Homo sapiens: one gene and its partner. The protein of the gene in region 1 interacts with the protein of each later gene in a biochemical or structural test. Each region holds a gene or a part of one and is shown on either strand. Other genes may lie near its edges.

Region 1 (7,027 bases):
GGGTGCAGTGCCTGGCACAGAGCAGGACTCAACATACACCTGACGAGACGATGTGCAGACTGATAGTTACCAAAGACCAATGTCACCTCCTCGGCATCACGCTGCCTGCCCCGAAACGTCAACGCTGTCCACCAATCGCAAAAACAGACATGATAAAAGAGTTGTCCCTTTTCATTAGTACAATGCTAACCAGTGGCCAAAAAAACCACAAAACAAGCAAAAGACAATAATAAGAGATACCAAGTAAATTAGGTAGTCAGTGCCTTCATCATTAAACATTCCCAGAATGCATCAAAATGACATGAAGGAATCACACAACACATTGGAAGAGAAATCCTTGCCTTTCAGATCTTTCACGTAGCCCTCTTTGCAACTGTGCATGAGCTGAAGGATCCACTTGTGTTGGGCTCCAATGCATTGCCAAGCAGGGTCACCAGACGCATGAAGGTCAGACAGGTACCTGAAAAAGCAAGTCCAAGGTTGAGGCCAAAGGGAAATGCTGGCATATTTTAAAATCATTACTTTTTAAAGGCTAAAATTTTATCAATTAGTCTTGTGCCCTGTCAAATATTAGTCTTTAATATTTAATTCTCAATGAAATATATTCAAATTTCTTGGCTAGGTGAGATGGCTCCTGCCTGTAATCCCAGCACTTTGGGAGGCTGAGGTGGATGGATCACCTGAGGTCAGCAGTTCAAGACCAGCCTGGCCAACGTGCTGAAACCCCGTCGCTACTAAAAAAAAATACAAAAATTAGCCAAGTGTGTTGGTGCAAGCCTGTAATCTCAGCTACTCGGGCGGCTGAGGCAGGAGAATCGCTTGAACCCGAGAGGCAGAGGTTGCAATGAGCTGAGATCTCACCACTGTACTGCAGCCTGGGCGACAGAGTGAGACGCCATCTCCAAACAAACAAACAAGCAAACAAAAAATAAAAAAATAAACAGCAGAGCTTTAAAATTTTTTCATATAAATGATAAAACTATTAAAAACAGCTCTTTGTAAAAAGATAAGGACAATTTGCAGTGATCCTATCTACCTGATGAGCATTTTTCTTTATATTTATATTTAGTTCACAGGAGTTTTTCTACTTAGTTCAGAGTCATTATATTAGACACAGGTGGGAGCCAGCAGATACTGGGCAAATACTTTTAAAATTTCAGATGTTTTTTAATTCCTTTCTGATATGAAATATGGCCACGAGATGGCAGTATGGCACCGCTTTCTAAAACTAGCTAAATGAGGGCTAACCGAACTGTGAAGAGATTTGGTGACAACACTCACCTCTAAAGTCCACACTCACGACTGAGAAAATATTTCTCTAGGAAATATAGTATAGTTCGGTGTTTTTCTTAGTTTCTAAATATTCTTAAAATATATCAAGTCTTTGTCTATAAAACACCCAAATCCATAGAGACCATTTACTTCCATAGAAAAATTTCTGTCAAATATTATTTAAGATTTGGCCCTCAGCCCTCACAAAATATATAAATATAGCAAGCTAAATCCAATTAAATCAACTCCAAAAGCATGTCCAAATGAATTTATTGTCTTAAAACTGTTGTTAAGCCATATGCCATTCTTTGTCTCTGGGTTAGAGGTTTTTGTTCAGTGGTAAATCATCATCAATGGCTCCAGGCTGACCTTGGGCCAGACCTCAATCCCTCAGGGGTGCACCCATGCTTCCAGCCCATTCTTCCAGTAGTGAGTGTGTGTTACTCAGGTATCTCAATCAGCAGCCAATCAGAGGAGAAACAAATCCACTTTGTAATATGTTAGCAACAAATAAAATGCTGAGAACACTGACATTCCCAGCTGATGGGGAGGGACTGGGTGCTGTGGGGAGCCGGATATCCAGGCATCTGCAGACGGGCCACACTCAGGCTGCCCAGAGGTGGCTGAGAGCTGCCATCTCCTCCCCCTTGTGACCACCTACAGGTTGCAAACAGGATGTGTCTCTGTGCTGAGAAAGTGGCAGGTCAATTAGAAGGAAGAGCTTTACTCAGATTAAGAAGTCACCAGCACTCCTCCTCATAAATGAGAATAGTATCCTGAGAAGAAAACTACAATCTAACAAGTTACATTTAGCTTGGCACAGGGGATTCATTTCAGATTCCAAAATGCAGTCTGATTCTTTCTCTCACACAAGGCTTTCTTCTTTTATTACCTGAACGATAAATATAACAAATAGTACACTGTGTCTTTCTTCCCAAAGAACGTGATTCTATGCTTTCTTGCTGGGGATGATGCATTTCAGCGTTCTCCCTAAATAGGCTTGTTTTGCCTCCCAACACCTCTGCAACGCTTTCTCCTAACACTTTCACTCACGTAGCCCTCAGATTTGGTGTTAGTAGTAAAATAAAGAGATACTCTTTTAGGGACGGTGTTCCTTTTAATGTTTAAATTACTGAATAGGAGTGTAGACAGTTCCGTACAAGGGTTCTTTCTCCAGGAGTACAGCAAGAGGAATCAATAAGCTTTGCTTAGTGGCTTTTTACATTATACGTCTCTTTAAAATGTTGACTGTGTCCTTGCAAAACCTAATAACAAAAGACTTTTTCTATCATCTTATTAACGGGTATTAAAGTAAAGGAGTTTATAAAAGTTTTACAAAGCAAGATAAAGTTGTTCTTTTAGAAATTCTAGACTCAGTTCAAAAGCATGACAACTTGTGCTGGGCTCTTCAAATAAGTTTCTTGTTTCCTTTCAGTATGCAGCTAAAAATAAGTAGTTACATTTCAAAACTCTGTTTAGAATGATACATGTTATCGCCATTTCTTTTAAAACTGCATATTAAGAACACTTTAAAAAGGCTTTTTAGATTCAAAAGCAATGTAAAGAATGTTAATTATGATTAACACAGGCTCAGTATTTTAAAATTTAAGAATAAAGGAAGTTTTTAGTCATATTCTGACATGATCTTCTCACAGCTACCAGGGATAAGATCACACTGCTGTGGAAAGGAATATGCAGAGCTTTGCTTCCTGCCAACATCAAGATAGAAATAAGGAGAGGGAGAAGAATAGGGAAGGTTTAAATTAGATAAAATAGTGAATGATATTAGAAAAAATTGTGAACAGTAAGACAATATAGTGGTAATCTGATTTTCCCCTCTACTATGCATAATCTGGATTATGTAAGAAAACTAATACATTTTTGTTCATGATAAAGCTATCTCTATTCCTACTTGATGCTCATAAATTTCAAAGTCCAACAGGTATTTGACCTGGTTCTGATCTTATTTTTCTATTTCTTAGCGACTAAAAATTTCATTTAAAAAGGTAACAATTGCTCAGTATTTTCTCAAAGCATCGTAAATAAAATAATCATTAACAAATACATAAACTATTGTTGACTTGTTTATATTTTTGCTCTTTTGCCTTTAAGATGACAGGAAAAATCGTAGTTAAAAGGCTCCTTAAAAGAATCTTTTTTGGCACTACCACCTTTTAAACGATATCCAGTAAGTTATATACTCATAAAAACTGCACATGAGTTATCCATATAGATGGTAACCCACAACATAAAGAATTTGTACACTCAACAAGATTTAACACACTACTATAGGCAAGTTTAACATAACAAGTGTAAACAGGCCAGAAATATACAAAGCACACGCAGTGAAGGAGCAGGGCAGGAAACAGCAGCCTCAGGACGTCTGAGGCTACCCAGCTGCGTGTCCTGGACACTACGCTCAACCTCCCTGCAACTCTGTCGCTTTCTAGGTAGAAAATAAAGCAGTTGGATGACAAATGTGTGGTTTATTTCCAGCTTTACATTTCTAGGATTCTACAAACCAGGAAAATCCCCTATATACATTCTTTCTTATGGAGGCAGCTTAGAGAGAAACAAGAGTGGGCTCTGAAGCCAAACAGGCGTCCCGTCCCCCGGGTCACTGTGTGTGCTGGGCAAGCTTCCGTGTTTTCACCTGTACAATGGGCACCGCACAAGCGTCCTTTCATGGTGGTGATCAGGATTAGAGAGGACATGTAGAACACATCCCGCACAGCGCCTGAGCATGCTGCACACGTGCAGGGGTGGCAGCATGCAAACACAGCACCCTCTCTTCATCCCACCGCCACTGCCTCTGCTTGCTTCCTCCTGGGCAATACTAGTGTGCTGCCAATGACGACGGCTCATACTCCCGCCGTACGCCTCATCACTAGGACACAGGTCCAGGTGCGGATCTTTTCCCCCGTTCACACTTGCACACACAGCAGCTTTCAGGCCAGACGCTCTTTTCAAGACAGTCTTTTCTTTTCAGAGACAGGATCTTGCTGTCACCCAGGCTCGAGTGCAGTGGTACGATCACATCTCAGTGCAGTCTCGAACTCCTGGGCTCAAGAGATCCTACTGCCTCAGGCTCCTGAGTGGCTGGGTCTACAGGCATGCATCCCCGCATCTGGCTAATTTTTGATTTTTTGCAGAGACCAGGTTTTGCTATATTGCCCAGGCTAGTCTTGAACTCTTAGACTCAAACAATCCTTCTGCCTTGGCCTCCCAAAGTGCTGGGATCACAGGTCTGGGCCACTGTGTCTGTTCCTGAGACATTATTTTCAAAGGTCACATGGGGACCACAGCTAAATTCATAAATACATAGTCTGTCATTTTACAACCACTGAATAGTCAATAAACTTCACTAATTCAAGTGGAAAAACCATTAAATTTGGAAAATAATTTATTCTGAGAACAAAGGCCATACTCAAAAAATCCTAGCAGAAAATGAAGTTAATATTTTTAATCACAGATATAAAAAACTTAAAATTTATATGCTTTATCTCCAAACCCTGACATAAACTACATGTACATAAAATTTACTGACTACTTTTTATGTGCCGGGTGAGGTATTAAACCCTTAAATGTATTTCTGATTATCTTTGCAACTATCCTGAGATGCAGATTTGATTACCATGTCCATTTCAGATGAAGAAACCGAAAAATAGAACTCAAGTCGGTTGCCCAAAGTTAACAGCTAGTTCCCATTATGTGATACTGTTTCTCTCTAAGGCCTTCTCTTCATATCCTGTGAAATTCACCTCTCTTAATATCACTGCAAATTTTTTTTTTTAAGACAGAGTCTCACTCTGTTGCCCAGGCTGGAGTGCAGTGGTGTGAGATCTCGGTTCACTGCAACCTCTGCCTCCCGGGTTCAAGCGATTCTCCTGCCTCAGCCTCCTGAGTAGCTGGGATTACAGGCGCACATCACCATGCCAGGCTGATTTTTGTATTTTTAGTAGAGATGGGGTTTCACCACATTGGTCAGGCTGGTCTCAAACTCCTGACCTAGTGATCCGCCCGCCTCAGCCTCCCAAAGTGCTGTGCTGGGATTACAGGCATGAGCCACGGTGCCCGGCCCAATATTACTGCAATTTTTTAAAAAGTATGCTCACTTAGTGACTTTATTTCTCTTTCACTGACCACTAAAGGCTTGGAAATCAGAAAGCTATTCAAGGTTAAAACCTTCCAGAACTTACTGTGCTGTTAAGCAGCAGCACATTCTTGTGGCATAATGCATTTCCCACCCAGTGTGTGACAGTATTCTGCTTTAAGCCATGCAGGGAGCCCCTCCTTCACAGATTATGGGTACCCACACCATCCCACTAGGCAAGGTACCCCTTTGCTCAGCAGGAGGAAGAGGTTGAGACTACTTTTCCTTTCCCGAAAATGGCAGAGTTTTCTCAAAAAGTGAGTAACTCCATAACTACTCCCAAATCTATTAGTATTCAAAAGAATTTTGATGTCCTACGCCAGATAACCCTAAATTTCTGCTATTTGTCTTCCCCTTCACCATTTCATCAATCTCCTAAAGTCCCTCAAGTTAGCCTTAAGGGTTACAAGATGCATACAGTACCAAACAGATACATGTGATTCAACAAAATGTTTGCAGAAGATTTACCTTATGTAACGTTTTTGGTCATGTAAAGTTGATGGTGTCTCAAGCAATTTATCCAGAAGTAATTCTCTTAAAGCTTCAATCCTTGTTTCTACTTCAGCATAATCTATTTAAAAAGAAAAGAATACACAAGATTTACAGAATGAAAATTTAATATCAAATTTCAAAAAGCAGAATAGTAGTTGCTTTTGTGGGGTGAGGGCTAAGAGGCACCAGGGCCGTGTCTAGAGTGATCAGAACACTATCTCCGATGTAGGTTACAAGGGTGTACATATTTGTCAAAACTCACTGACCTCTAACATGTGAGGTCTGTACATTTCACTGCATGTATATTTTACCACAATAAAAAAATAAATTTAGTTTTCTGGGTCCTTACAGATTTCATTTTTAAATTTAATAAGGCCCTGTGATATTTCTCCTGGTGGACTGTAACTCTGGCATTAGACATAACTTCAAAAGTTGCTGAGCTTCCTTTAAAGGAGGTTGGAATTCTTCAGTCTATGGGTCTCTCTGAAGACGGGAAGATTAAAATGTAGGTTTCCATCTCTAGAAAATACTTGTCATTGATTCCTTCCAGTAAACTAAGACTTTCTAACAGCGTGATGGTTAACAAACGGCAGAGAACGTCTCAGGCGAACAACCTAGAGTCGTGGTTGCTCATTTTCACTGCGTATCAAATAAGAAAAGTCATACTGTTATTTCTGAAGTAATTGCTTTACATTGTAAAGAGAGCCTCATATAAACAAAAACTAAAAACTCATATAACATTCTTTGCAGAACACATTCCACATTCTTCCTATAAAAGGAAAGGAGAAGATCTAAAAGTAATACATGAATCTTACATTTCTTGAAAACTTGCACCTCCGTTTTCCCAAAAAGTGACTTGGCCTTTTCATAATCATTAATAACCACATCATAATCACCCTTTAAAATAAAGAAACATTTTGAAAACTGTCAGTAATGCAAAATGAAGACATTTGGTTAATATAAAAAACATCTTAAAAAATCTTAAAAATGTATGACATCTACAACCATATGTAAATAAATAAACATGTACTCTACCTTTTGAATATTCCTTTCAATATTTAGAGGAAGGTTGAAAAGAAACTTAAATCGCTGAAGCACATTGAGTGCATT
Region 2 (7,027 bases), on another chromosome or scaffold:
TTATAAAGATTTCTGAAATCTTAGTAAGATTCTCTCTGCAGGTCCACAATCCCTTGTCTTCAATTCTGAATACAAAAAGCTCTGAAAACCCAAAACTTACTGGACATAAGGCCATTTATAGTCTTTGGCCACTTCTTATGAATATTTGTACTTTGTAATGCAGAAATATTATTGTTTTGCTTATGGGCTGCTGTCCCTGGACCTTGCATCAGTATATATGACATATGTACTGTATTACTTTTCTAAAAGCTGTAAAATTCTGAATCTGAAATACATCTGACTGTAAGCATTTCAGATTAGGGATTATGGACCCTTTTTGTATAATAATAATAATAATAGACATATTGCCTGTCAAGGGGAAATCTGTCCCCTTACTGGAATCTCACCATGTGAATCTTGGAGTCACATAGCACTGTACTTGGAAAGGGCTTTAGAGATCATTGCCAGCCTCTTTCACTGTACAAATGAAATAATGACGTGCCTTGCTTTAAGGCAAGAAATCCTTAGCCAGCTTTGATTCCAGAGTCATTGTTGGTTTTCCCATCATGGGTGTGGGGAGGAGAAACAAGAACTAATTCCAGGATGTTGCCCTCCCATTTTGATGCCATTTCTCTCTCATTTTTTTCTTTCCTTAGCTTCCCTAGGTAGTTAGCTTTTATCAGAAGGAACCCCTGTGCTGTCTCCAAAAGGCAGTACCTGGGGGCTGGAGCATAAGAAGGGAAAGATGAGGAATATTACTGGCTGAGTTGTGGATGCCTAGGACTCTTCTCATATCGAAATCATGGTGTTCTGAGGATGGGGCCTCCATCTAAATATGGGAGCATATAACAGCCGTTAAGAATGAGCCTAACAGGTCATTTCCTCTTTGGTCAGTTTCCCACTTGACAAAGGAAGGGTAAGATTTACATTCCCAAATGCTCCAGAGTCCTTCTGGTGAGCGAATTATTATTATTTTTCTTTTCAGATTTTGGGGAAGGGATTTGAGGAGGGAAGAAAGGAGATGGGGTAAGAGTGTTTCTAAGTCTGAAACTCTCTCTGTCCTGAGCTGTTCCCGTGGTTACTCAAGGACAAGGGGAGACAGTTTTGCCCACAGCTCCAGAGACACAGATAACAAAGGAATGACCTTCATTTTTCTTCAGGTTGGACCCTGTAGGGGTCTGTGAGCAGCTTCTCCTGGAACTTTGTTTGGATTCTGTGTCCATATTTATAATTTATTTGAAACACGCTGGATAGTGTTCTCATTTGGGGGCTGAAGTTCAGCTAGGGAAAGCAGTGAGGTGGCATGGGTGCAGGAGGAGGGGGTAAGGAGAGATACGAGATACACCTGCCAACGACTCGTAGCCCAGAACTCTCTCTAGAGAAGAGAAGCCCCTCCTCCTCAAGAGGCTGTCTTGTTCTCAGTCAGAAGAACCTTGATTTAGGAGATGGCCTCTCTTTTCCTGGCCATTCTAAGAGGAAAGGCCATTTTACCCCATTACCTCCAGAGGGTTGGGCTAGGCCAAGGACCTCATAGGACTCATGTCCCCTTCAGCCATGGCTAGCATTGCTGCTTTGCCTTCTGGGGCCTGAGGTAGAAAAAAGTGTGGTTTCTTCAGCTGCTGCAGGAGGCCAAGCAGGGCATTTGTCCTTTGCCCCAGTAAATTAAGCCTGCCAGGGTGCCTACCTAGGAACTTTCCTGGACATGAATTTCCTCCACTGTTATGGTCATGAGTCTCTTTCTAATGGGATTACAGATCAGGGGTGGGGAGACAGTGTTACCTGTTGTTTTCTGGTGCTTGTTATTATATATTTGAATAAACAGTGCTGTGAGTATTTGCCGTGAAGGAGCTAAAAATTTTTTTTTAAAAAAGAATGAGCCTAATAAATCTCATCTGTTACAGGGTCTGAGAGATACGTCAGGGTGAGAGAGACAGAGACAGGTAAATAGACATTGACAGTTGTGGTTCCCACACTTTTTCATCCTTGGCTTATTCATCCCTAGGGTGCAAATAGCTATGGGCAACTTGGCCTCGGCCATAAGGAAGATGTGCTGTTGCCCCAGCAACTGAATGACTTCTGTAAACCCAGGAGTGTCAGGAGGATCACAGGAGGAGGGGGCCACTCTGCAGTTGTCACAGGTAATTTCCTTCAAAAGTAGATAGTCACTCATTTTCTTATTTAGACGTTTTCCCCTGGATATGATATTGCCATCTTTCAGCCTTTTGTATTTTGCAGAGGAAAATAATGTATTTTTGTGAAACATTTTTGTGAAAGAGCCAAATTACCATCAGAAGATCCTAGATTTTCAGGGCTAGAAGGACTTCAGAGATCTTCTAGGCCACCCCTTTCCCCCACCCCCTCCATTATACAAATGAAACTCAGAAAGGAACACTGATTGCTTAACATCACAAGGCAAAGTAGTGGCAGAGTTACAATGTATATTTTACACCATAGGAATTAGAAGTCTTTGTAATTAGATTGGATATTCCTTGAGAGCAAAAACTGTGTGTTCCCCTTAATCTTCCCTTACTGTATCTAGGATAGCACTTAACAAGTAGTACAAGTGCTACAATGTTGTAAAGGGGGGCATATTGCATCTGGTTGAGAACATGAGCTCTGGAATCAAATCTCTGGGTTCAGATCCTGGTTCTGTGACTTATTATCTATGTGGCCTTGGGCAAATAGCCACAGTTTCTGAATCTGTTACATGAGGATAATAATGGTGGGTGAAGAGAACCAGTGAGTTAGCAGGGCTCCATTCCGACTGTCATGGGTCGTTGGTGCTTTTCCCTTTATGGACCTCTTCCTTTGTAAAGAAAAAAATTATATTTTACAACTGTGTTGGTATAAAGATGGATATTAATAGAATCCACTCCAGATTTAGTGTTATATATGCATTGTTACTATATTATCTTTTTCTCATTTAAAAATAACTAAAAATTAAGCCACTCTGTGGGCCTCTGAAAGCATTGTGGGCCCTAGACACTGTGCCTAAAGGATAAGTCCGCTCTGCACAAAAAGCTCTTAAAACAGTACCTGGCACGTTCTCAATGTTGAATAAATGTTGTTGGCTTTTTGTTCCAGTAGATGCTCAGTTTGGTGATTGATTGACCACTGCGCCAAGACTTGAAGTTTCTCTGTAGGTATTAGTTTGAGGCCCTTGGCCTTGTGTTGTTTGGCTCCAGAATACATGAACATACACAGCTTATTAACTTGGATGGCAAAAAAAGTTATTGGTCTGAGAGTCCAAATAATTAGTGAAATCTTTTTGTTCATTTTGCAGTTGTGTTTTTTCCTGTGCACGCTATCACTGATGCCTTTATATTTTGCAGATGGAGGAGACCTCTTTGTTTGTGGCCTGAACAAAGATGGGCAACTGGGGCTTGGTCACACAGAGGATATCCCATATTTTACCCCCTGCAAATCCCTCTTTGGCTGTCCCATCCAACAGGTGGCCTGTGGCTGGGATTTTACGATTATGCTCACAGGTGAGTTCACTCCTAGGTAGATTTTTGTCACCACAAAGGCTTTGGGTGAGAACAGTATGATGATGGTGACTGCAGATTAAATGAAAGCCTCTTTGTGTTTAAAAAGCACACATAAGGCCTGGTGCGGTGGCTCACAATTGTAATTCCAGCACTTTGGGAGGCCAAGGCAGGTGTATCACTTGAGGTCAGGAGTTCGAGACCACCCTGGCCAACATGGTAAAACCCCGTCTCTACTAAAAATACAAAAATTAGCCAGGCGTGGTACCCCATGCCTATAGTCCCAGCTACTCTGTAGTCCCAGCTATTTGGGAGGCCGAGGCAGGCGAATCACTTGATCCTGGGAGGTGGAGGTTGCAGTGAACTGAGATTGCGCCACTGCACCCCAGCCTGAGCAACAGAGCAATAATCCATCTCAGAATAAATAAAAATAAATAAAAAGCACACACAAATTTTCCCTCTGGTTGTCAAGGAAAGTTGTGGACTACCTTTTCTAAGGAGAGTTTAACGGTAAAGGAGACTGGGATTGGGGTGGAAAACTTTTGTCAGAGAGTAGGGAATAGACTAGATCACCTTTGGTGGCCACTTCCTGTCCCAAAAGTTCATGATAGCTGTGTGCTTGGGGTAGCTGGCCAGTGGCCAGCAGTGGCAGCAGAGGGTTACTTACAGGGAATGTGGTAGGAGAATATGAGGCAATAGTGGTTGCCAAAGCAGTGATGGCAGCTTTTTCACACTGTGGGATTTTTTTTTTTCTAAATGTGTTAGGCAGATCTGTTTGGTCTTTGTGAAGCCAGGTAGCAGGATAGGATATGGCCAGAGGGTTATTAGAGTAATGCACTTGGGAACAGCCAGCAGTAGTTACCTTGTCAGCTGACGTCTGTTCCCTTGAAGCAGTTTTGACCTCTCTGTTCAGCTTTGCTCTGTCTAGCTGGCCATTCTGGATTTAAAGGACCATCTGTGGTTTCTGACCAGGCTCCCTCTTTGCCACGGTCCTTTGGCAAGGGCATCTTCTGTCACTCTCCTGTCATAAACCCTTGTGGATTCTCCCAGACATAGCTCAGATTCCTAGCTTTTTAGCGTTGGCCTTCTGTAACTGTTCCCTAGCTATCTTTGTGCTGTGTCTCTTATTCTCCACACTCCTCATACTTTTCTTTCTGGTCATACCAAGCAGTATATGTTCTTCTGTCTGTCTGGACCAGCCCCTCTTGTCTATCTGATGGACTCGAATCCCAGCTTTAAAACCCTGCTCAAGTGTCACCATCCTCCTCTGTGGAGGGGTTCTGTAATATGTGTTGAATTTGATGGTGATTATTAGAATCTAAACAATAACTATCATTTATAAGGTGTTTATTGTGAGCCTATGTTTTGGATTGTAAGGAGTCAGTAGATAATGCTCTTTCCTGCTCACATTTGGAGCCAGTTGTGAGAAAAGCACAGAGAAGTCAGTATTGGAGATTAAAAACTATTGGCTTTTCACTGGTAAAGGCTAAATTGGAGGACAGTATTAATTATGAGGCCAGTGGTCCTAATATTCTTCTGGTCCAAACTTACCCCCAAATCTCTAGGCTTTCCCCACAGGGAAATGCTTCCTATGTGTCAGCCTAGAATGACTGAGAGGGAGGTGCCAAGCCACACATGTCCTGTCCCATCTCCTAAACTCACCAGTTGGTTACATGACCGCTGTCCCCTAGAAAGCAGTGAGGATGGGGAAGGGCAGGGAGAAAAGCTGGAGTGTTGTTTTACTAATGGAAATTTTGTCACATGGAAACATGAAAAATGAAAAATTACTATCCTCCCATCCCAATACGAGGCACTGAGTTAAGTGTTCTACACAGATAATCTGTTATTAATGAGAGAATAGAATAGACAATCTGTGTAGAGTGCTTAACCTGGTGCCCAGTGTTTTCATTCCTAGAGGAATAAAAGCAGGGAATATGGTCTGAATGCACTGAAGCACTTCCCCTCATCCCCTTTGCATCTCTCACCCTGCAGCATTTACCCATTGGTCACAGACATCTTACTTCATAGATTTGCAATTTAAGTATTTGTATTTTGCAGAAAATGGTCAAGTTCTATCATGTGGATCCAACTCCTTTGGCCAGTTAGGAGTTCCTCATGGACCTCGAAGATGTGTGGTTCCCCAGGCCATTGAGGTGAGGACAGTTAATATTTAGCTTGCCCATGACCTGTTAAAGTGTTTCCAAGGTATTAACCTATCTCTCCCCAGAATAAAAGGCTGTCAGGATCCCTGAGAACCCATGGAGTAGGAGAATTTGAGTTGAAAAATAGGTCCTTCTGGGAAAAATTAAGTTGGGAGGTAAACGTTGTGAATGAAAACCTCTGTTAGTTTTCATACACTTCATATGAAGTTTTGTGAAATAAAACAATAAGAGTAATACATCTCATAAGGATATTGATGACATTTTACAGTTCTAAAATTAGTAATAATGGAAATTATGTTAGAAATAGGTCCAGATAGAAGTGATTTGTCGAAAGACACTAAGCTAGGCAAATGGTATAGGCCAGTGCTAGCCAGTAGAAATATAATGTGAGCCATATGTAATTTAAAATTTTCTAGTAGCCCTATTTAAAAAAGAAACAGGTGAAAGTAATTTTTAAAATAACAGCATTATTGAGCTGTAATTCACATACCATAAAATTAACCCCTTTAAAATGTATATCCACAGAGATGAGCAACCAATATCATTATCTTATTTTAGAACATTTTCATTACCACCAAAAGAAACTATGTACTTAATAGCAGTCAATTCCTATTCTCCCTTCCCCTCAGCCCCTGGTGAGTACTAATCTACTTTTTGTCTCTATAGATTTGCCTGTTATTTCAGCATGTCATCAGTATAAAGTTATTTTTTGTTTTTATTTTTATTTTTGAGATGGAGTCTCACTCTGTTGCCCAGGCTGGAGTGCAGTGGCGCGATCCCGGCTCACTGCAACCTCCGCCTCCCAGGTTCAAGCAGTTCCCTGCCTCGGCCTCCCGAGTAGCTGGGATTACAGGTGCCTGGCACCATTCCCAGCTAATTCAGTATAAAAATTATTAACAAGGTATTTTATACTGATTTTGTACTAAGTCTTTGAACTCTGGTATGCATTTTTTACTTACAATATGTCTCAGTTTAGTGTAATCACATTTCAAGTTTTCAAGAGCTATGTGTAGGTAGTGGCTACCATATTGGACAAAACAAGTGTTAAACAGGACTCTTGGCTCTAGTTCAGAGCTCTTTACTTCAGTGCATCATACTTAAAATCACCCCTTTTTGTGAAGTTTATATTGTAAGTGATCATAATAGGAATATAGAATTTTTAAAGAAATATGCTTGAATCAAAAATGAGTTTTACCACCTAAGCTGTCCCACTCCGATCTAATTTCCCTAAACTCTGATTAATAGTGGGAGATGTTTTTTCCCTAGAGAAAGCTTGGGTCTGCCCCTGCCAGCTTGCTGAACTCAGTTGTTGGTCTGTGGACTGTTATTTCGGGTCATGGTTCCCATGGTATGCACAAAGTCTAGGCTCTGTAGTCCCTGAAGGAAGTATTATAGCTCCCA

What was found. The genes of interacting proteins can lie anywhere in the genome.
Region 2: the proteins of EXOC2 (region 1) and SERGEF form a complex in vitro, tested with the Homo sapiens proteins (one study listed by BioGRID).

The regions. Positions count from the first base shown.
Region 1 is NC_000006.12:592,128-599,154, forward strand, and holds part of EXOC2 (exocyst complex component 2), read right to left. Parts: coding exon 6,953-7,027; intron 6,815-6,952; coding exon 6,733-6,814; intron 5,997-6,732; coding exon 5,894-5,996; intron 461-5,893; coding exon 342-460; intron 1-341. UniProt on the Homo sapiens protein: Component of the exocyst complex involved in the docking of exocytic vesicles with fusion sites on the plasma membrane.
Region 2 is NC_000011.10:18,003,031-18,010,057, reverse strand, and holds part of SERGEF (secretion-regulating guanine nucleotide exchange factor), read left to right. Parts: intron 1-1,981; coding exon 1,982-2,117; intron 2,118-3,311; coding exon 3,312-3,467; intron 3,468-5,522; coding exon 5,523-5,617; intron 5,618-7,027. UniProt on the Homo sapiens protein: Probable guanine nucleotide exchange factor (GEF), which may be involved in the secretion process.